Linked DNA regions of Homo sapiens. The protein of the gene in region 2 purifies or fractionates together with the protein of the main gene of each other region. This does not show direct contact. Each region holds a gene or a part of one and is shown on either strand. Other genes may lie near its edges.

Region 1 (7,792 bases), on a different chromosome or scaffold from region 2:
CACCCAGGCTGGCCGTGCTCCCACCATCTGTCCTCCTGGAGCCTTGTTTGTGGTGCTCCTGACTCCCCTGGGCTCCCCCTTGTGTGAGCCCCAACACTGCGCTGACTCCCCAGCCTGTCTCCTCTCCTCCAGCCGCCCCCTAGACCCAAGGCAGAGCGAGCCCCTCTCCTCCTGTCCCCATCTGACCAAGTGCTGTGGAGTCTCCAGCCTCATACACCTGGCCCCTTCTGTGGGTCCCACTGCCACCATGGCGGTTCCAGGAGGTCCAAGCCTCTGCCTGGCCACCCAGTAGCCTCCAGTCCTCAGCAGCTGGTGTTGATGGTGGTGGTGGGGGGGGGGGGTTTCTAGTCGCCTGAGGTAGTGTTGGAGACAGTCGCCCCTGCAGTGGGCAACCTCAGTACGTCGCTCCACCTGTCTGTGCCCCAGCGTCCTTGGGGATAGTAACAGTAGGACCTACCTAGAGAGCCAAGGGTGCTGCTGGGCAGGTCCCGTCCCCAGCCCGGCTATGCCTGGCCTGTCCTTGCCTTGTGGAGCTGCCTATGCCCCCTCTAGTCCCCGCTTCCCCAAGTTCGCTGTGCGGCCTGAACATCTCCTCCAGGCTCCCCCCTCGAGACTGGGACGCCATCACGTGGCCCCAGGCCTGGTGCTCACGACAGGAAAAGATTTCTCAAGTGGGAGCCAGCTGGGAGAAGGGGGCAGTCCCTGAGGCTGGCCAAGGGCTGCTCACCTTTGAACAGGGGACAGATGTTCCAGACATTGATGCTGCCGGCCTTCATGAACTGGCCCAGCGAGATCTCTAAGAAGAAAATGGGGATTCCTCCAACCAGGGCGATCAGGACGTAGGGAATAAGGAACACACCTGGGGGTGGAGGCACAGCGTGGACTCAGGGTGGCCCCCAGCCAGGCTGCCCAGGCCCAGCGGGCCAGCCCAGACTCCAAAGGCCCCATCACAACTTCCGACTGGGTGAGTCAGTGTAGGGGTGGCCACTGACTCAGGCCCCAGGTGGAGTCTTGAGGGGGTGGGTTGAGTGTGTTGAAGAGGGGCTACAGTAGCCCCTGAGCCATTGGAGCCCTATTCCCTGGGTGGCAGAGGGGCCCTAGGCCCCCAGGGCTTCCACCCCCACGGTCACTTGGGGCGATGGCCATGGAGGACACACACGCTCAGACACGCGGGCTGTCCCTAGTGCTGCAATTCCCTGTTTCAGGCAGCACAGTGAGGGCACGTGCATGTGTGCATGTGTGCCAAGGCTGGGTGATCAGGCCTGGGGGGCTCATCCAAAGGCAGGGAGCGCGACTGTCCTGCCCTTGGACGCTTGCCTGCAAGTGTGAGGTCTAAGGCAGAGGGTGGGTGGGTCACAGTCCCCTGCTGGTGGGATGGCGATGTGCAAGGACAGAGGGATACAGGTGCGGAAGAGGGGCCAGGCCGGCCTTAGCAAGGCCAGGGAGTCAGGCTCTGCAGGAGATAGGCAGGGCGTGACACAGGCCTATCTCCTGAGGCCAGCAGGCTGGGGTGGGGGTGGCAGAAGGGCAGGGAGAGCTGGGTGCCACTACCCCCTTCTCCTCTCTGGGCCTCCTACCCTTGCCCTGGCTGGGCTCGCTCCACTACTCAGAGGCTGAGCTTGGCTGCAACTTGCCTGACTCCAGGTCCCAGCATCCTTCTCCTGACCTTGGGCAAAGGCCTTTGCTCTGGACCTCTGTTTCCCACCCATCACCGGGTCACTTCGGCTTCCAGCAACCCCAGTGCTGTTTTGTAGTCACAGGACACACGCGTGCCCATCGCTGTTGCTAAGCTGGGCCCGGGCGGGCGGGCGGGCGGGCGGGCATGGGACGTGCATGCAGTGTGTCCAGTGGCGGCGCCAGGCGGGCCAGGCCGCAGGCTTCCCAAGCCTGGCTCGGGCACCCAGTGTTCCAGGCCCGGGCCAGAGGGGAGGGGCGGGAGGGCCGCGAGGGGAGGGGAGGGCAGGGGGAGGGACAGAGTGGCCCATTGTGTGTGTGTGTGTTCGTGTGTGTGCACACGTGGGGGGCCCACACAATGTGCCGCTTGTGTGCCCGACCCGTGGGGGCAGCCAGGGCTCCTTACCTCGCGGAGACCCCAAGGCGCAGGCCTGCTTTCCCACCTCGGCGGCCAATCGCTCCTCCCAGCCCGGGAGTCTGGGGGGCAGCCTCGCGGGCATCGCCGGCCCCCTCCCCCCACCATGCCAGGCACATGACTGCGAGGGGGGTGGAGGCGCCCGGCCCGGCCACCGAGCGGCAGCGGCGGACGAGGGGCGGCCCCGACCCCCGCGTGCCCGGGGGCCACCCGTTGCCCGGACTTCACCCCTCCGCGGCGGCTCCGGGGGTCGGGCGGGGGCCGGCGGCCTGCTGGGGGAGGAGGCCGCGGCGGGCGGGGGAACTCACCTCCGCCGTTCTTGTAGCACAGGTAGGGGAAGCGCCACACGTTGCCCAAGCCCACGGCGAAGCCCACGCACGACATGATGAAGTCCATCTGGCGCGTCCAGGTCTCGCGCGGCGGCACGGCCAGGCGGCCGCCGGGTGTCCCCAGGCCCACGGGGCCGTCGCCCTTGGCCGGGGCCCCGTCGGGCCCGGGCGCGATGAGGGGGCCCTTCTTCTCGTCGCCGGACACGCTATAGATGCCGTTCTCGGCGCTCTTCTTCGCCATGGCCTCGGCGGGCCGCACGGCCGGGCCGGGGTCGCGGCGCCTCACGGGGGGCGGCGGTCAGGCGGGGGGCACCGGCGGCACCGGGGAGGGCCCCGAGGGCGCGGGCCGGCCGGGGGCCGGGGGGCGGCCGGGCCGGGGGACGGGGCGGCGGGCGGGCGGCGGGGTGCGGGGCGCGGGCGGCGCAGTCAGAAGCAGTCCACGAAGCACTTGAAAGTGAGCCTGAAGAATCTCATGTGTGTCGGGGGCCCGGGGGCGCGCGGGCGGCGGCGGGGCCCGGCCGGGCGGCGGCGGCGGCGGCGGCGGCTCCCGAGGCTCCTGCCCGCGGCTCGGGCGGCGGCGGCTGCGGCGGCTCCTCGCCCGACCCGAGGCTCAGCCTAGCGGGGCGCGGGCGACATCGGCGCCCGCGGTCTGCAAGCGGCGGCCGGAGCAGGGGCCTGTGGCCCGCGCCCCCCGCCCCGGCCGGGGCCCGCGGAGGCTGCCCGGCTGGCCCGCGACTCCGGTGGCGGTGGTGGCGGCGGCGGCGGTGGCGGCGGCGGCGGCGGCTCGGGCGCGCCTCGCCCTCTCCTTCCCGGCGGCGGCGGCTGCAGCCGCTCTCGGGGCCGCGGCGGGCTCAGCGACTCGCCACCTCGCTCCGACTATCCCTCTCTTCCCCGTCCCCGGCCGGCCGCCGCTTAAAAACCGACTCCGGGGTGATGTCACTATCGCCCCACCCCCACGGCCGGCCGGCCCCCCTCCCCCTCCCCCTCCCGCATCCCTCCCTCCCGCCCTCCTCGTCACACTCCGCCCACCTCCTCCCTGCCCTCCTCCCGGGGAGGAGACGCCGCTCCAGCGGGAGGCAGGATGGTTGCTACCTGGGGCGGCCGCCAGCTCCTCCCGCAGGGCTCCGGGCCGCCCCTCGCCCCAGGGTCGCCGGCTCCTAGTGCAGCCCAGGCTTCCCGGCCGGCCCCTCCCAGCCCTGGGAAGACGTCCCCCGGGCCCCCTCAGCCCTCCGCCTCCCCTTCTCTCCCTTTCTCCCCGCTCCTGGCAGGCTGCAGCCGTCTCCTCCCGGTGCTCCCTCCTTCCTTGAGCTCTCTCCACCGCTGCCCACTGGGGGCTACAGCTTCCCGGCTACCCTGGAAGCTGGAGGCCGGGACCAGCTCTTCAGGTGACAGGCCTCTGTGTCTCCACAGTGGGCAGAGGGGAGCCTGCCTGGCTGATGAGCAAGCCTCGACTTTGTCATCAAGGCAGAGAAGGGGCCCGGGTAAATGACCCCGGCGGCCCCCACCCCTGCCTGGCGTGAGAGTGGGTAGGGGCTTCGGACTTGAGGGGACTGGAGCGGGAACAAGGCAAGGCTGCCCCCTGGTGCCTGGCAGGTGCACAGACCCTTCCCCAAAGGCCTCAGGCCTGAGGTCCTGGCTGCCCGCCCCCCACCCACCCCGTGTTCCTCTCCCCAGGACCCCCCAGGCCTCCCTAGCAAGAGCCAGCTTGTTGGGCTGCCTCTCCGCCGCCAGCTGAGCAGCTTGTTTAGAATTTTCTAGGGCTAAGAGTAGCCTGGGGGTGGGGTGGGGAAGGAAGTGGTCATTGTCCTGGCCTGGGAGGTAAAGTGTGCCCCCCTCAGCTTCAAGCTCCCTGATCTGATCGTGGACACTGCAGTCCCCAGATGGCTCATCCCGTTAAGCTAAGCCCGCGGCCATCCGTCCAGCTTTAGGAAGAAAAGCAGTTCCGGCCCAAGCCAGATTGAGCTTGCTGGGTGAGGGAGGGACAGTGTCCCCACCCAGGCTTGGAGGAGGAGCCTCAAGGGGTGTGTGTGGTTGGGGGAGACAGGCGGTGTCACCTGTGCTTAGACCAGGGGTGGTGGGTGGGTACCCCTGAGGTGGCAAGGTCACACTGCTCATCAGAAGTTTCTCACTAGGGTCTTCTCTGGCCCAGCCTTTGACTGAAGCTGGTCTGGAGACAGGGGCATTAGAGAAGTGACTCATAGATGGCCTAAAGAAGCGGGGCCACTCAAGGACCCAGGACAGAGGGAAGAGGGCCAACCCAGCTGGACCACAGGCAAACCCCATTGCCTTTGAGAGAAAGAAGAGGACCCGGTGAAGTAGGCTCGGAGGGCCTCAGCCCAGCAGGAGTGCGGGGTGGGCGCGTGATGTCATCGAAGGGAGGACGGTGACCTGGGGGAGGGCCGCTTTGAGGGAGAGTGCAGGCCACGGCCAGACAGCTCTGGGAGCCGCGGGCAGGGGAGACTTTCAGATGTTGCTTGTCAAAGGGGTGGGGGTGGAAGGGAGAGAAAGCAGAGGCTCGAGAAGGATGTAGGAGAGCTGATGGCACTTTGGGGAAGTGACCACTGCTGCGGTTACTCCTCCGGTGGGTTCCGAGGCCAGGGACAGGATCATGAGGGAGTCGCCACCCCTGACTGCTGCTGCCTTTGTGAGATCAGAGGAGGCCGAGGCAGAGGGCGAGGTGGCCAGGCTGGAGGGTACTGGAGACAGAAGTGAAGGGTGGGGGGCTGTCCAGAATGGCTGCCACTGCTCCATGGACCCTCGGAGTGGGAGCCCCCACATCTGAGGGGAGGTCCAGTGGGCCCCCATACCTGACTCCCACGACCTCCTGGAACTGGGCTCTTCTCCAGGCAGCCACCCCTTCCCACACCCACCTTCTTCCCCGCCCTTTGCCAGCCCAGCCTGGGGTGCACCCACTACCAGCCCCTGGGCCAGGCCCTGCCTCCCGCCCCCAGCTGGTCTGGACCCCATAGTGACTGTGAACTCCTCCTCACGGCCTGGGCCAGACCCCAAACTGCATTCTCTGAGCAGCCAGAGGGACCCTCCTGAAGCACAAATCTGACCAGCCCCTCCTTTATCTCATCCCTTCTTTGGGCTTTTCTGTGCCCTGGAGGTAGAACTAAATTTTTCTCCAAGACTACGAGATGGAGTGTGATGGGGCTGTGCCCTCCCAGCCTCGGGGCGTTCCCCCTGAGTTTTCCCTCCACGCGGGGCCCACAGCCTGGGCTTCCCTTTCTCTGCTGACCTCCAGGACTCTGTCCCAGGAGGCTCCTGAGGGAGGTTCAGGAACCCTCCCCACGTCGGCCACCCTGGGAGCCGCCCCTGCCCAGCCAGGGCGAGCTGGGCCTCTTTGAGCAGTGCATGAAGTTCAGGCTGGTAAGGCTGGAGTTCCCGGCGGGGAGCTCCGGCCGGAGCTCTGGTCTCTGTCACAGGCTCTGACCCGGGCGGCCAGTGACAGGGTCTTCTGAGGCTGCTCCCACGAGCTGCTGAGCAGTTGGGGGAACAAAGGCAAAGCGATTTCCATCCCTGGCTGGGTCCTCTCCCACGTCCGAAGGCTTCAAAGCGTTCTCGGGCTTTGTCAAGGCGCGTCAGGCTCGGCCCGGGGGCAGCAGCTGCTGGGGAGGGGCAGGGTGGGCTCTCCAGGCCCCCAGCTGAGGGCCGGGTAGCTGTCCCCCGCCAGCCCTTTCCAAGCCTCCGCCTGTCTTGCCAGGCCCTTGTGTTCTACTCACTGAAGGGGGGTTCCGAGCATGTGCAGGAGGGGGTGGGGGTGCCCTGCGACCTGTGCCCAGCCCAGAGCTCCTATGGTGGCTTCTGGGTGAGAAGCAAACTGTTCTCTGGGGCAGAGGCGACCGGGGAGGGGCGGGGGGAGAGCTGCACCCTCCCCTTACCGTGTCCCAGGGAGTGGGCAGCCTTTCAGGCCCCAGCTGGGGCTGGGGGGTTGGAGTAGGAGCTGAGGAGGAGGGAGAGGGGAGGAGAAGGGGAGCTGGGGGGAGGGCAGGGGAGGGGGGCTAGCCGGAATGCTCCTGTTTGTTGGGGGAGGCCTGAGAATTGGAGCCAGCGCCCACTCAAGCCTAGGGCAGCTGCGGACCGGGGAGGGGCTGGGTGAGGGGCCACCGGGCCCTGGGGTGACTGGTTATCCTGGGAGGATGGGCAGCTGGAGACAGGATGGGGGCGCCTCCTCTTCTGAAGGCGAGCCGGGCACAATGAGCTTTGGAATTAGAATAAGCTGGGAACAAAGGGGGAGCCAGAGTCCACCTGGAAGGGCTTTGTACTTCCAGCTCCTGGGGAGGGGGCCGACGTGCGGCTGCAGCCAAGCGGAGAACAGAAAGAATGGGGCTGGGGGCGAGGGCCTGCAGCAGGGCAGGGATGGGGGGCAGCAGAACCCCCCACCCGCGCCCTTCCCACCAGCTGTGCTCGTTTACACAGACCCGCAGAAAGGAGGCTTTGCTTTGTTTTTTACATTTTATGTAAACTTTTATTAGGCTGGTTTTATTTGTTTTATAGATTGAGAGGGTACAAGCGCGGTTCTGTTACATGCATATATTCCGTGCAGACCCATCACCCTAAAGCTGCCTTGCAAAAACTGTAACAGTAACAAAATTCTGCCAGTGAGAGAGCTGATCTAACCAACCCTGTCTGCATTTACCCTCCAAACTGTTTTTGGTCTTTCCTGGGCATGGGCCAAGCTAACTTTGGGAGAAATTTCGTTTATAGTTTAAATGATAACAGACCTTCCCAAGATGAAACCGCCTTTGTAAAAGTAATGAAAGGCCATCAGGTGAGGAGGATGAGAGGGGCCTGAATTCTGCTAACATGGAAGCATTCATGATGACCAGCCATTGTTCAGAGCTCAAGAGATTTGTAACTTCTCCAATTACTCCTGTAGATAATGTCACTATTGTAGAACCTAAGGTTGGCTTTTTGAGACGTCTTTGCAGGTTTTTGCATTTCTCACTACCAGATGGCTCCACCCGGACCACATAGACCTATGACTCAAGGTCCTGTGGCCCTACCTAAAAGCAGACTCAGCTCAGCACACAAGAATCATCCCCCACCCAACCAGTCAGCAGCACCCATTCCCTAGCCCCCTGTCCGCCAAACTATCTTTAAAAAATCCTAGCTTTCGGGCTGGGTGCGGTGGCTCACACCTGTAATCCTAGCACTTTGGGAGGCCCAGGCGGGTGGGTCACTTGAGGTCAGGAGTTCAAGAGCAGCCTGGCCAACATGGTGAAACCCCTGTCTCTACTAAAAATACAAAAGTTAGCCGGAAATCGCTTGAACCCGGGAGGTGGAGGTTGCAGTGAGCCAAGATTGTGCCACTGCACTCCAGCCTGGGCAACAGAGTGAGACTCTGTCTCAAAAAAAAAACCTAGCCTTC
Region 2 (7,622 bases):
GTCAGTCCAAGTGTTGTAAAGATTAAAACGTTGTTTTGAAGATATGCTGTGTCAATAAACAAATATGGAGCCAGAGCAACACAATGTGACCAAGTGTCCAAGCCCAGCTTAGGAACACTTTTCTCCCATGTTATCTAGCAAACTGACAAATCAGCTTTCCAACACGTGATGATTGGAAAATGCTATTAGTTTCCTTCAAAATTCTCCTAATGTTTCTTTTTCAAAATTGCCTAAGATCATTGGATTATGTGGTTTGTGTTTCTTTTCACTGTAGCTGCTTGTTAAAGCAGTATACTCAATCTCTGATAAGCAACAGTAAATTTGATCGATTTGTATCCTAAATTTAGCTATCACTTTACATTTTGTTTTATTCATAATATGAACTTTAGCTTCTAAAAATCAACTTTTTAATAGCTTAATATATAAAGCCATCTTAAATCAAGGAATATCTATAGGGACTTAAGGTAATATTCAACTAAATTGGCAAGTGACTACCATTATCCTATTAAAGCTCTAAAATGCAATATTTCAATCACAGAAAAAAAATCTTATAATTTAAAGAACTATAAATTGCCAGATGTTTCCCTAGTTATTACGTTAGTGACAAATTAGACAACTGGAAATAGAAAACAGAGTATATGTTTGGAACAGTCATAAAAGGACTAGTGACTATTGCTGCTAGCTGTGGTTGTATTAACATTAAAATATTTGCTATGGGATTTTTCTTCTTATCAAAGCAGATGCTCAGATGAGGAAAAACTTTCTTGCATATGAAAATCAAAATTGTCTTCCAAAATATTTAAGTAACAAAAAATTCATTATGTAGTATAAATGCTGTATGATTACATTATTCTTATAGTTAATTTAGAAGGGTTTGAATTTGTTTTTGTTTTGTTTGTGTTTGTTTCTTCGATAGGTGCATTCTCTAACTGTCTTAAGTAGAAACAAATGTCTAGAATCTCTCAGTGATTATCAGTCTCCTTCCTATTACCAAGAATGTTTTTATTGTGTTGTTAATCTCACATGTAATTTTTTTAACATTTAAAAGTTTGGAAAATGGGTAAAAAATGAGTGTGCCTTGTTTCCTATTATTACAATGTGCCTTCCTATTTCAAGTCCCAATTCTAGATTTCCTTAAAACTTAAAATCATAGAATTAATAATCTTTCAGTTTAAGTCAACTTTTGTGTGATTTCTTGTCCACTTATACACACATAGATGCCTTCATCTTCACCAAATAATGTAGAAATTTTATTTAGTTCAATGGATTTAAGTACTCTGTATGCTTAAGTACAAAATAAGAATATTGAGAAATACACATATGATTGTGTACCTTTTTTTTTTTTTTTTTTGAGACAGAGTCTTGCTCTGTTGCCCAGGCTGGCGTGCAGTGGCATGATCTCGGCTCACTGCAACCTCTGCCTCCCAGGTTCAAATGATTTTCCTGCCTCAGCCTCCTTAGTAGCTGGGATTACAGGTGCATGCCGCCACGCCCAGCTAATTTTTGTATTTTTAGTAGAGAAGAGGTTCGCCATGTTGGCCAGGCTGGTCTCAAACTTCTGACCTCAAGTGATCTCCCTGCCTCGGCCTCCCAAAGTGCTGGGATTACAGACATGAGCCACCTCACCTGGCCTGATTTTGTACTTTTAAAGAGAATTTGTTGTTGCTAATTTGCTAAGTTTATTTAGATATTTTCTGATTCTATATTAGTCAAAGCTCCTCTTATCTACTTTGGAAAATGAAGAATTATGTCTATAAAATATATCAACAACAGCTGCAGGTACTTACAGAGGAAATACTGTGGATCTGAGTGATATTAGGCCCTGAGGATACAAGCCAAAGTATAAAAATGGTCTTTGCCGTAGAGAGATAGTAGTCAAGCTAAGCACATATTTTGGCATGGGTCTCTAATAGCCTAATGCTAGTAGGGTGGGAAGCCATTTAAAAATGGCCCCTCCTTCTGTCCTGCCTTTCAGACCAGATGGTGTGTCTAAAGTGGTCACACTGTTTGGTTCTGGCCACTTCTGTAATAACCACTGCTCCTTTCCCCTCCTCGTGAGATTATAACTCCTTTGACAGTATGGATGGCACCTAACGCATCCTTGTTTTCTTTTACTAAATGTTCCACGGAGTCACTTGCTTGCCTGTTTGTTGCTTATTTGTTTGTTTTTGGCTAAAACTACAGAAAATGTTAAATACATTTTCAGACCTTTATATTTTAAAAAAGAAATGTTAAGAAATAAATAATTTTTCTAATCTCATTTAGATACACTGTCCTATTACACACAATGACAAATTTGATGCTTTTGTCTTGCTAATTGAAGAGCTAAGCATGAATACAGTTTTTCAGTCTACAGCAGCAATGACAAGGGTAAAGTGGAGAAAAGAGTAAGGAAAGAAAAAATTAAAAAGAATAAAAGGTTGAAATATCAAATCGGTGGTTCTTAAGATGACAGAGGCAGGTGAGACAAGAATACTGGAATCACCCAGGGGGCATATGAAATCTGTACATTTCATCCACACCTTCTTTTCTCCCCCTGTCCTCATTCCCCCTGTTGAGACACATTGTATTACAAATTAGGAGGAAACCATCTAAAATTATCTCACGTATCCCAGTTCCCATATTAGCATCATGAGTATCACCTGAGAGTTTGTTGGAACTGCAGAATCTCAGACCCTGTCCAGACCCATTGATTGCATAAGAATCTGCATTTTAGCAAAATCCTCAGGTGATTCAAATGCACATTAAGGGAAAAGAAACACAGTGTACCGTACCTGTGGCTTGTTTAGAATAATTATGAAGAGGTGTTTTCTTGGCTCTTAACTAACGTTTTTAATAAAGCTAATATTTATTGAGTACATAAATGTGCCAAACACAACGTTCAGTCTTTCTTTAAATTTTTTTTATTTAATCCTCACAACAACCCTGTGAGATAGTTTCTGTTTTATCCTTATTTTATAGATTGGGATACCAAGTAATAATGAGATAAGTAGTTTACCCAAAAGCTGTAACTGATACAGTCGAGATGTAAACATAAGAATTCTAATTTCATTGCCTGTTCTCTTAGCTGTTACCTACAGTGTCTGCTCTATACTGGGCTACCTACTTTTTAAGGCCAACTAATTATTTGAAAATTTATTTAAAGTTTTAATTTGAGATCAAAATCTGTTTCCCTCATAAATTTTTTTTAAAAAAAGCAAACAAGATCTATTCCATTTTGATCTAATGTTTTCCTGTCACCTTACCTTTAAGTGCAATAATGGGAAATTCTAGAAATTCCTTCTTTAACTGTTTGAAAAAATACCAAAACTATGACAGCCTGTCCAAATCCACTAAAATATATTTTTATATGCATGCTTTTTGTATATCAATTATACTTCAATAAAGCTTTTTAAAAAAATAGTAGATGACATACTTTTAAAAATTAACTTTGGAGCCCAGGTATGGTGGCTCAGACCTGTAATCCCAGCACTTTGGGAGGATCACTTGAGGCCAGGAGTTTGAGACCAGCTGAGGCAACAAACTGAGACCCCCATCTCTACAAAAAATAAAAAATTGCCAGAGCATGGTGGCGCACACCATGTAGTAGTTGGGACCTGTAGTCCCAACTACTCAGGAGACTGAGTTGGGAGGATTGCTTGAGTCTGGGAGGTGAAGGCTGCAGTGAGCCATGATCACACCACTGCACTCCAGCCTGAGCAACAGAGAAAGACCCTGTCTCGAATAATAATAATAATAATAACAACTTTTGATATCTCTATTTTTTCCCATAAAAATCCAAAATTTTCTGTTTACTTTTTGGTGCTCTCATGCTATAAAGTAAATTCTCCCTTGGATTGGACAAGTTATTTTCTGTTTTCTACATACACATAGACTGTTCAGCATTCCAACTCAAATTACATATTACTTTTTCAGCTTTTAATATAAATGCTTATTTACTACAAGCATGGTTTACAAAAATGTAGTAAAATATAGTTACTAACCAGTCAATGCTCAAGCCAGTGACTCCCCAAATGATTCAGTCCCTGAGCTGTTTCACCCAGTGCAGGTAGATTCTCTGACAGCCATCAGTTGGATCTGTCCGAATATCTCCTGTTTTGACAGGGGCTTATTGATGTTGGTCAAAAGACAGGTGTGTATGGGTTCCCTGGGATCATGTTTGAGGGGAAACCTGTGCCAACAGGACTGAGCAGCCACTTTTTCAATGGTATTGAGAAAATTTGTAGGAGATAAAATTTCACCAGCTCCTTGAATCTAGAACTGTAGATATTCAGGTAGCACTGACATTACAACATCTAATTTGTAAGTTATGGGTTAGGGCAAAATCAATCCAGGGCTGCCATCATGACAAGTAGTGGAAGTTTGAAAGAAGGAGAAATACCCAAAAGATATCTTACACATAGCAGGCAGAGTTTCTTAGTACTAATAAAAAATAAAGTACCAGTGATCACCCTCTATAGCCCCTAAGAGTCCCCTGGTTTCACTAAGCCCCAATATTTGTGGCTGTGGCTGAATGCAATCTGCACAAGGTTTTCTTTTTAACAGTTGGAAAAAATCTCATAGCATAGCATTTTTTTCTTTTTAACAGTTGGAAAAATTCTCGTAGCATAGCATTTTTTTCTAGTAAATTTCATATACTTAACAACTTTATCAGCACATATATTTTCCTTCACACTTACAATTTCATCAACACATATACTTTACTTTTTGACTCAAATTCTTCTTGCCATCAATTCAAATGCTCCTGCCCTTAGAATGAGAATTTTCCATTAACCCAGCTTTAATAATCTAACTCTCCCATTCAAATGATGTCACTTCATATAAAACACATTTTATCATGATGTCTCCCAGCCCTCAGTTACACAGTTAATTGCTGCCACTTTATCATGAATGAAAAAGATGTGATTCTTGGGTAATGATTTCTTGAGTATGTCCTGGTCTATTATCTACTGAGTTACCAGAGTGGATTTTTGAGAGAACACACAGTTATTCCTATTCCTTTTAATTTCCATTAACTTAAGCCATATGATAGAACATTACAGTTGTTATATATTTTGTATAAATATAAAATGTAATATATAATTTATATATTTTAAAATATTTAGTGGCAAGTAAAGATAGTAGTAAGTGAAAAAATCACTGTATAACATATGAATCGTAAGTGTGATCCCATGTATGTGTATACCTGGTAGATGCTTGTCAAGGTGCCATTAAGGTCTTGGGTTATTGGCATCTTAATGAAATTCATTTAATTATGTTAGGATTGATTTGTTAGTAAAATCACTTACATGTTTTTTAAATGCATGCATATCTGTGGAGCCAATAAGAAAAATTAGGAACAATATACAACAAATCTTAAGAGCTTTTGAGGATGATTTTTTTTCTTTCTTTCTTTTGTATGTACCTACAAAATTTTCTATAATGGATCTCTATTGATTTTATATTTTTTACTTTCTATTTGTCTTGGAATTTCTATTACTTTATTTATAATTCACTCTAGATTTTAGGTACTAGACAACTACTATTAACTCTCTGGAGAATGGTACTATAAATCTGACCCTTTCTGTCATTTTTTTTTCCTGTGGTACACTAGTGTCTCACAAAGAGTCCACAGAATTCACACGGTCATGATATTTTATAGAAGAAATCATTTTATGGGAACTTTCTTTTGTTAATAGATCCTTCCAATGCTAACATTATTCTGTATAACAGTGCTAAAGTTGGTATGCCTAAATGCTAAACTTGGTATGCTAAAGTTGGTTTAAAAATTAACCTATATACAATCTTCTTGAATAACTCTTCAACTTTAAATAAATTTCTTATTTAAAAAATCCTCCTATATATAATTAAAAATACTGATGAATTTGACTACATAAAAATAAATGCTTATACAGTAAAAAGTACCATAAACAAAGTTATCATCTAAACAAGAAACCTGGGAAAGCTATTTGCCAGCCATTACATGTAAAATTTAAGTTTCCTTAACATAACATGAGCTCTTTAATGTGAGAAACAATAAACAACCTAATTGAAACATGAGCAAAAGCCATGGCTGAGAAAACTCGTAGAAGAATTACTATGGAAACAATAAGAAAATGAAAAGAAGTTCAACCTCATTCATAATTAACGAAATGCAAGTCAAAACAAAGATATACCTTTTACTTATCAGATAAAGAAAAAATGATTTGATAAAACCCAGATTCTTGGTATTATAAATTGGTATAACCTTAACGGAGGACATTTTATGAATATCTATCAAAAACTTAGCATATACAAACAATTTGGTTCAACAGTCTGTTAGAATTTATTATATAGATACATTCATATAAGTACAAAAGTGCATATATGTAAATATTATTATTGGGACATTTTTGTAGCAGCCAAAAGGAAAACTGAAAAAAAAGATTAAGGCTCATTAATAGCAGACTGGTTAAATAAACTATGTGTGAGTACAATGAATGAAATATTGTACAGCCATCAAAATGAATGAGGTAGATTTATATATGCTGATGTAGGAAATCTGCTAGCCATCATAAGTAAAATAAATGAAACAAAGAAGAAAATACTATGATGTACAAAAAGAAAAAACTATAGATATACATATTTATATGCATGTGTATGCATTTTTTATGAATATACATATTTATATGCATGTGTATACAAGTCCTAGAAGGAGACATAGGTAACTATTAGTAGTACCTCTGGGAAGTAAATGCAGAGAAAAGTAATAGAGGGTAAGGATATGTTTACTTTTATTTTACATCCTTCTGTAACTTGACATTTATACGACGCGTTAGCATTACTTCTGGGAAAAAGAAAAACAGAAAAGGTAATCTTTTAAAAAGGTATTTTTTAAATTATGGTACAATAAAATGTGCATAAGCTTTATACTAAGTAATAGAATCATTTAAGTTTAGCTGTAGATTCACAAGTAAAAATCCAATCTATTTTCATATTCTTACATTTATAGACATTTCTTACATGTCTATAGAAAGAAATGGCTAGGAATGAGACTGCACTATTTTACCCTAAAACGTTCTTTTTCTCTTTGCCTAATGTATATCTACAAGGGCATTGGGGAAGATGTTGACCACAGGCAGGAAGATGATGAGATCCTGTGCCCACCACTTAATGCAGTCTAGCTCTATATAAGGAAAAATATGTTCTTGATGTGAACCAGATGGTTTCACTCCCTTCAAAAACACTCTTAAGATGCAGTGTGGAAGCTTACTCTGTAAATTAAAAAATAAAAACCTGACTATATTCAGTGGAATGCGTTAATCATTTTTTTCTTTTTAGGTTTGATATTTGACAAATTGATCTAAAATGGCTGGGTTTTTATCTGAATAACTCACTGATGCCATCCCAGAAAGTCGGCACCAGGTAAATGCCTTACATCTACAGCAGTGGGTCTGTCAGCAGTTTTCTTTAATGTGTCAGCAGTGGGGAGAGCGCAAAAACCCACACACACCATTATCTTGTGAAAGAAGTAGAGGAAGCAGAAAATAATGAAATCCCAGTGTTACCACATCCCCTCCAATATACAGATTAAGAGCGTTTGTATTTATATGGTTTTAAACATAAATAACATCAGAATTACTAAGCTATTTCCATTCATGTAC
Region 3 (7,410 bases), on a different chromosome or scaffold from region 2:
GCTCAGATGTGGAAGATGCTTTTGAGTTAGGGTAGGGCCCACAGGACACGTGGATGTCTGGTACATAGGGTCAGGGGGTCAAAGTGCCTCTGAGGTTTGGCCAGAGCCCTGCACTGGGATGGGAAGGCTGCTGGTGGGCAGAGTTCAGCTGGAGCACTGATAAGAGTCCTCCTCGGGCCTCCTGCAATTTGAGAGGTCCCTTAGGCATCCGAGGGGGAACACCCGGGAGGCAGCCAGGGCAGAAGTCTGGCAGTCCAGGAAAAGGTGGACATGGTGCAGCTGGTATCTGCAGTATTTACGGTGGCCTGATGGTCTATAGACAGCATTGACAGCCCTGGGGGCCATGAGATTCCTTTGGGAGCAGTAGGGGGCGTGGCGCGTCCTGGGCTGAGAGCAGAGCAGGAGGCGGTGCAGGAGCCTGAGATGAGGACAGAGTGAACCCAGGCTGGTGGAAGGAGGGCATCCTTGAGCACCCAGGTAGGAGTGCAGCCCTCTGGGATGGGCCTCTCTTAGAAACGTTTGTTGCTTTCCATTGAACCAATCTCCCAGGAATCGACTGCATCCTTCAGTGTTGGGTGGGCTGAAAACACCCCACCTTAACACCAACACCAAAACATTGTTTAATGGCCCAGGATTAGGATGCAGGGAAAATAGAGCCTGGAGAAAGCTGACTCACTGTCAGCTGTAACAGACTCACCAGGACTCCAGCCAAGCTTAGCACCCCCAAACAGCAGAATGTTGGGGGGCAGCCCTTCCATCCTGCAGCGGTTCACTCAGTCACTTGTGCATTCCCCAAGTGTCTGCTGAGCAGCTGCTCTGGGCCAGGCTCTGTTGTTAAGCCACAAACAAGGCAGATGCCATCCGGGAGGGGCACGCTGGAGTAGCCGGTGAGACCGGAGGAGCAGTAGCAGCAGAAGCCCAGCCTGGAAGGAAGGGCTGGCTCCGTGGCCTGGCTGTCCTTTATGGAGGTCTTTGGAGTTGAGCCAGGTGCAGTGAGACCTGTGCATAGGTTTGAGCAGGGGCCTGGCCTGATCACATGCCCCCAGGTCTGAATGAGGCCACCAGCTCAGCGAGATCTCACCCCACACAGCCCTGGGGTCAAGGCCTGCAGCACTTTGTCCTTTTTGTGACTTGATGGGCAACAGCTTTAGCAGGCGATGTCCCAGGCGGCTTCCACACCACAATCCTGTACCAGAAAAGGCCTAAATAATGAGGCAACATCTGCATTGGCTACGAAAACTGAATTCTGTTTCTTTTCATTAAAAACGTCAAATTATTCTCAATTTCTGTGTTACCCCTAATTCAGAAACCAGTCTGGGGATAAAGGCCTGAGTGAGAATAGCTGACCATCTGCCGTCTGGCAGATGTGGCTTTCCCGAATGCAGAGAAAATCCGAACCAGATTTCAGATGGGGTGCTAGAAAATTCCAATGTGGAGCTTTTTGGCTTACTTTTTTTTATTATTATTTTAAATAGGAACGGGGAGTATCACTCTGTTGCCCAGGTTGGTCTCGAACACCTGAGCTCAAGCGATCAGCCCGCCTCGGCCTCCCAAAGTGCTGGAATTACAGCCGTGGACCACCAAACCTGGCCCTGGCTCACTTTTTGCACTGGAGAGGTGATGAGGTTGGCATCATTTCAGCTGATTCCGAAGCACTGTGCTTTGCCTAGCTGAGCCCCTGGAGGGCTGAAAGAAAGTCACCGAAAAAAGGTGATTAATTGTCTAAACGACAGAGCCAGAGAGGAAATATTTTTAGCTTTCCAGGCCTGGTCTCTGCTGCCGTGACACAACTGTGCCCTTACAGCATGAAACTTAAACCAGTAAAATTTTATTAACCAAAACTAGCAGAGAGCTGGGGTTAGCCCCTCAGCAAGCCCTGACACCTTGTCTAAACCCAGAAAACCAAATCCTAGGTCGAACCTTGGCCCCAGAAATGCTTCAGAACTCCTAATGTGTCCACCTGCTCACATAGGCAGGGGTGGACAGGTGTTGGATGAACCCCAGGGTCTGCCTGGCAGCTCAGCGCTCCGTCTGCTGCCCCCTATAGGGATGGCAGTACAAGGTGGGCCAGCTACCATTGGCGGCTGTGCTGACACTGGCCTGTGCGAGGCCAGGCAGAGGCCTCCCCATCAACTCCTGGCTTCTAGAAGCAGGAGGGGGCCCAGGCTGAGGGGCCAGGGAGCAAAGAGAGGCAGCAAGGACTTGAGTGCGTGAGGCAAGGTGGAGAAGCCAGAGGAGGGAAGGGCTCGCTCCTGGAGCAGTGCCCTGCCGGAGGGTCAGGGGGCTTAAGGGCTGCCGTGCGCTCAGCTGGGGGCAGAGGGCCACTGTGCCGGGGGAGTCTGGGGCACAGCGGGAGCTCTTTCATGCGGGAAGTTCCGCTGATCTGAGGTCTGCAAACTCCTGTGGGGAGGGATGGCCAGGGAACAACACAGAGCGGAGCCCGGGAGGCAGCAGAGACGCAAGTTTTGGAATGTCTGACTGGAAGATGGAGGAGGAGACGGGAGAGAGGACAGGCGGAGTGAGGTCAGAAGAGCAGGGGCACCAGATTGAACCAGACCCAGTCAGACACGGGGGCTGTGAGGAGGCCACAGGGGCATCTGAGCAGAGACAGGCTTTAGTGGGTGCAAATCAAAAGTGTGGCCATTTTCGGTCTCAGATACCTCCAGCTGGGGACTGCTGGGCTCTCTGGCCTGGAGCTCTGAGTACAGGCCTGGGCCACAGTTTCTGGTTATAGCCAGATGGGCCCCAGCACTGTGGCCAGGGTGGAGAGGTATGGACAGAGAGGAGGAGGGACAGAGCCAGGCCAGAGCTCTGGGGCACCCAGGGACAGAAGAGAGGGCAGTGGAGGAGATGGGGCCAGGGCAGCTGGTGAGGTGGAAGAGGGCCAGGCAGGGGCAATGTCAGGAAGCCATGAGAAGCTTCCAGAAAGAGGGATGATCTTCTGTGTTGAGTGCCCTGAGGGATCAAATCAGACGAAGATGCAGAAGTGGCCAGTGGAGTTAGCCGCAGGGAGACCCTCGACATGGCAGGTCCCGGCTCCAGCCATGGGAGCTGGGGGATGGAGGGAGACCCATGCGAGAAAGGCCGGCAGTGCCCATAGGCTGGGAACTTGCTCATACCAGCAGGTACTTCGGACTTTCTGGTAAGATCGAGAAGACATCCCACTCACCAGCATTCTCTCCTTTTCAAATCATCTTTCTTTTCTACCAAATTGGAATTCAGATTGGGCAGAGACCCCAGAGGTCACCAAAGCCACTCGTCTCCCCAGGACAGGGAACTGCGGGGTCACAGCCAAGAGCCTAGTGCAGCACTCTCAAGTTCCAGAATACCTGCCCAGCTCAGCCTAGAGAAAGACACTGCCATCTTTTCCTGCATGCGGATCGGTTGACGAGACCAAGGCCCACACCTGAAAACTCTTTCCAAAGGCAGGCAGAGCCATCCCATTCCGTAGCAGCCCTCCAACAAATGGGTGGACATTTCTCATGCCATGACCCCCAGCCATTGACGTGGGTGGAATTTACCAGCACCAGCCGGCCACTGACTGTCTCCTTCCTTCCTTCCTACCTTCCTTCCACGTTTCCTTTCCTTTCCCTTCCTTTCCTCCCTCCCTGCTCCCACCTCGCGCCCTGTCCCTCCACCTCCCACTCCAGATCCGGGTGGTGAAAGCGTTCCGTAGCTCGCTCTATGAAGGCCTGGAGAAACCAGAATCCAAGACCTCCATTCACAACTTCATGGCCACGCCCGAGTTTCTGATCAATGACTACACCCACAACATCCCGCTCATTGACGACACGGACGTGGACGAGAACGAGGAGCGCCTCCGGGCCCCCCCGCCCCCGTCCCCCAACCAGAACAACAACGCCATAGACAGCGGCATCTACCTGACCACGCATGTCACCAAGTCAGCTACCTCTTCAGTGTTTTCCTCCAGTCCCGGGAGCCCGCTCCACAGCGTGGAGACGTCCCTCTAACAAGAACTTGTCTCAGCACATGCGCACACGCACACTCGGACTCACACGAAGTCACACGCACACATGCACGCACACACACATATGGGGACCTGCACACCTGCAAAACGAGGGAACAACTAAGGTGGCTGAAGACCTTTCTGGCAGGGCATTTGCAAGGACCCAAATCCATTCAACAAGGGTGCAGCCTGCCACAGGCTCCTCATCCGGACTGAGGAAGACGAGGACAGGGAGGAGGAAAAGGAGGAAGAGGAGGACAAAAAGGGGGAGGAGAAGGTTCTTCGTCCAAAGGAGGAAGGAGAAGAAGTAGAAAGTGCGAAGAGCTGAGTTCCCCACCTTTTTTTCTATTGATGCTTCTTTTTTAACAAACTACAGTTTTACCGTGTGTTTGCCATTTGAGCTGTGTGGTGGGCAGGGGGCTGGTTTGGGTTTATGGGGAGCTTTTGTTGCACCCATGCAGGGGCAATCAGATCAGCATCTTCATGCAAAAAAAAAAAAAAAGTTGAGTGCTCTGCAGGCCTGTGAAGGGTGCCACCTGAGGGAGCCGCCTGCAAGCGGCCCTGCAGCCACAAAGCAACCCGCCCTCTGCAAAAACTAGGCACATCCGCAGTGCGCATGTGTGTGCGTGCATGCACATATGTGTATGTGTGTGGATCTGTACACACACACGTATATATGGCCAGATGCGTATTTCAATAAGGAACTATTTACTGGCATGATATTTGCATTCCTCTTATCAGGCATTTTCATTTGGAAATTTCATTATTGAATGTAGCAAGGTTGTAGTTGTTTTTTTTTTTTTTTCAGGGAACTAGACTGCAAGAATATCTTTCTGGTCAACCCATTTTTGTCCCTCATCACCCCGCCCCCACCTTTCGCTCCTGCCCTCTGCCCGGCCCTACTGAGATTCCCAAGGAGAAGGCCGAGAGGGGGCGCTCCAGGTCTGGAGCAGGTATAATTGGAGCATTTGCACTGAGACCCCTGCCAGAGAGGAGAAAACCCTTTCAAGGGAAATTTTAATCTAAAAGGAAAAAACCAAAATATTGATGAGAAGGAGTCCTCCAGTTAGTGAAAGGGGAGTTTCGTTTTCAGCTTTCTTTGGTTCCTACTCCAATTCCACATCCTTCATCCTGGCCATGCCCCCACCTTCAAGAGCATGAAGCACTCTTGGAGTTGTGGGTCCTGCCCAGAGTCCAGAGAGCAGCCTCAGCTGAGCACAGGTCCGAGGGGGCGGGGGCAGGGCCAAGAGTTCAAAAGAAGCCAATGGAGGGAGAGGGAGCGTCAGAAGCCCGGAGGAGCTGGTGGTGGGAGAATGACGGCAGGGACGCAGCCACAGTTCAGACCCTGTCCCCTCAGCACCTGGATGGACTCCCACTGTTTGCTTTGGCAAATGCCGAGGAGTCCTCGGTAGACCACCTTGATGTCTGCTGTGACATCAGAGGTGCCACCACCAAAGCACTCTTCCCACCCTAGTCTTTGTGTCCAGCGGCCAAGCTTAAGCCATGAAGTCATGGATTTGTGGCTCAGCACCAGGTCCTGAGGGGAGCGTATCCTGGCAGTGTGGGCACCTGGTGGCCAAGCCTCAGTTTCCCCCAAATGAGCAAAGGGGATAAAGAGGGGCCCGACTTTTGCCACCCTCCTGAGGAAGCCCCTAGGTCCACACAGTGATGCCATGGGGGACCCTTGCCTTCCACACTTGCAGGTGTCACGTTTTGCAGGGAGGTGTTTGGGCCTTGGGCTCAGCCACTGGGAGACAGTTGGGACCTGAGGGACAGAGGATCGGAATGGAAACCACCAACGTGCACTGGCACCCTCAGAAGGCTTGTCTCACCTCCACCGGCATCCACACAAAACCAAACAGGAGCAGGCGTCATCCCCACTATTCCCATGAATGCCATGTCACCCCTGAGCAGAAGCAGTCAAATCTTGGGCAAAAGAATTTCGGTTAGAAAAGAAAATCCCACTTTAAAATGCCAGCTGCAGATAACTCAAAGCCATCCCTTTTTTCTAAAGGGCACATTGAGAATGTCACCCATTTGTAAACTGTTCCCTGATGTCCTTGTTTAAACGATAATAAGAAAAAGGGCAACTCCATTTGTTGAGGGTCTTTGTGTTCTTCAATGAGAAATCAAATTTGAGACGTTGAAATTGGAGCTGCGTGCTGCTGCACTCACCGGCTTCTTCTCACTCTCTGTCGTAGACACACCGATAGGACCAATGGCCAATAGATATTAAAAGCAAACCCTCACTGCTGCTGTATAAAGTTGCCTAATGTAAATGTCTATTGTTTAGTCCCTAGGTCACCTTTGTGCTGTGCTGTGGAGTTCAGAAACGGGGTACCATGACCTGGAATCTTTTGCTCTTGTTTTTGCAGTCTTCAAGGCTGGGGGCCCTGTCTCATTGGGAAGCCCCTCTTTATAAAGCATTATATTACTTGGAATGGCTTGGTCAACTGTGTTCAGTTCATAAATATGTTTTACATTTTTATCTGCCTGTTATAAAGATGAACAAAAAAACTTAATGAGAAAGATCACAGATACGTAATAATTTAAAGTCTGTAGTTGAATTTCCTAACTTAAAGAATAGACCAAAATTTCTGTGTATAAAAAAAAATGAAAGGCTCCTTACATCCTGGTCTGGGTAACGTGTGTGATTTATTATTTGGTGAATTATTGTGCAGAACAAAACAAAGGTGCCTTCATGCCTCTTTAACAGAGCTGGAGAAGCCCCGGGCAGGAGGGGCTTTCCCCTGGGTGTGCAGCAGCCTGGCCGGATGTGTATGCAGAAGAGGAACTTATGCTGGGATGTTAGGCCCCCAGTGGGAGGGGCTCCAGCTGCTGCAGGAGCCGCGGCTGTCTTGACTTGAAAGGGCCTCTAGTACACGGCGCGGTGGCTCAGTCCTGTAATCCCAGCGCTTTGGGAAGCCGAGGCGGGAGGATCCCTTGGGCCCAGGAATTTGAGGCTCCCCGACACACATGCACGCTCCCCACTTCTTTTATTGTGGTAGAACACAGATCACATAAAATGTACCACGTTCACCATTTGTAAGTGTGCGGCCCAGGGGCAGAAGCACATTCACGGTGCTGTGCAGCCATCACCACCGTCCAGCCGCAGAACTTGTTCATCTTCCCAAACTGAAGCTCTGGCCCCGTTCAACCCCAACTCCCCACCCCCCAGCCCCTGGCACCCAATCTTCTACTTTCTGTCTCTATGGATTTGACCACTCTAGGCCCCTCATAGAAGTGGAATCCTACAGTATTTGCCCTTCTGTGACTAGCATGATGTCCTCAAGGATCATCCATGTGGAAGCATGTGTCAGAATTTCCTTTTTAAGGTGAATCATACTCCATTGTCTGGATATGCCACATTTTGCTTATGCAATCAGCCATCCATGGACATTTAGGTTGCTTCCACATTTCAGCTATTGTGGACCATGCTGCAG

Evidence for each region.
Region 1: the proteins of AGTR1 (region 2) and SLC6A8 purify together in Homo sapiens (affinity purification with mass spectrometry; 3 studies listed by BioGRID and IntAct, with this or other methods). This does not show direct contact.
Region 3: the proteins of AGTR1 (region 2) and ATP2B3 purify together in Homo sapiens (affinity purification with mass spectrometry; 3 studies listed by BioGRID and IntAct, with this or other methods). This does not show direct contact.

Annotation. Positions count from the first base shown.
Region 1 is NC_000023.11:153,683,442-153,691,233, reverse strand, and holds the start of SLC6A8 (sodium- and chloride-dependent creatine transporter 1), read right to left. Parts: upstream 3,309-7,792; 5' UTR 2,660-3,308; coding exon 2,398-2,659; intron 1,724-2,397; exon of another isoform or gene 1,635-1,723; intron 860-1,634; coding exon 728-859; intron 1-727. UniProt on the Homo sapiens protein: Creatine:sodium symporter which mediates the uptake of creatine. Plays an important role in supplying creatine to the brain via the blood-brain barrier.
Region 2 is NC_000003.12:148,700,645-148,708,266, forward strand, and holds part of AGTR1 (type-1 angiotensin II receptor), read left to right. Parts: intron 1-7,299; 5' UTR 7,300-7,383; intron 7,384-7,622. UniProt on the Homo sapiens protein: Receptor for angiotensin II, a vasoconstricting peptide, which acts as a key regulator of blood pressure and sodium retention by the kidney.
Region 3 is NC_000023.11:153,576,328-153,583,737, forward strand, and holds the end of ATP2B3 (plasma membrane calcium-transporting ATPase 3), read left to right. Parts: intron 1-3,650; coding exon 3,651-3,971; 3' UTR 3,972-6,602; downstream 6,603-7,410. UniProt on the Homo sapiens protein: ATP-driven Ca(2+) ion pump involved in the maintenance of basal intracellular Ca(2+) levels at the presynaptic terminals. Uses ATP as an energy source to transport cytosolic Ca(2+) ions across the plasma membrane to the extracellular compartment.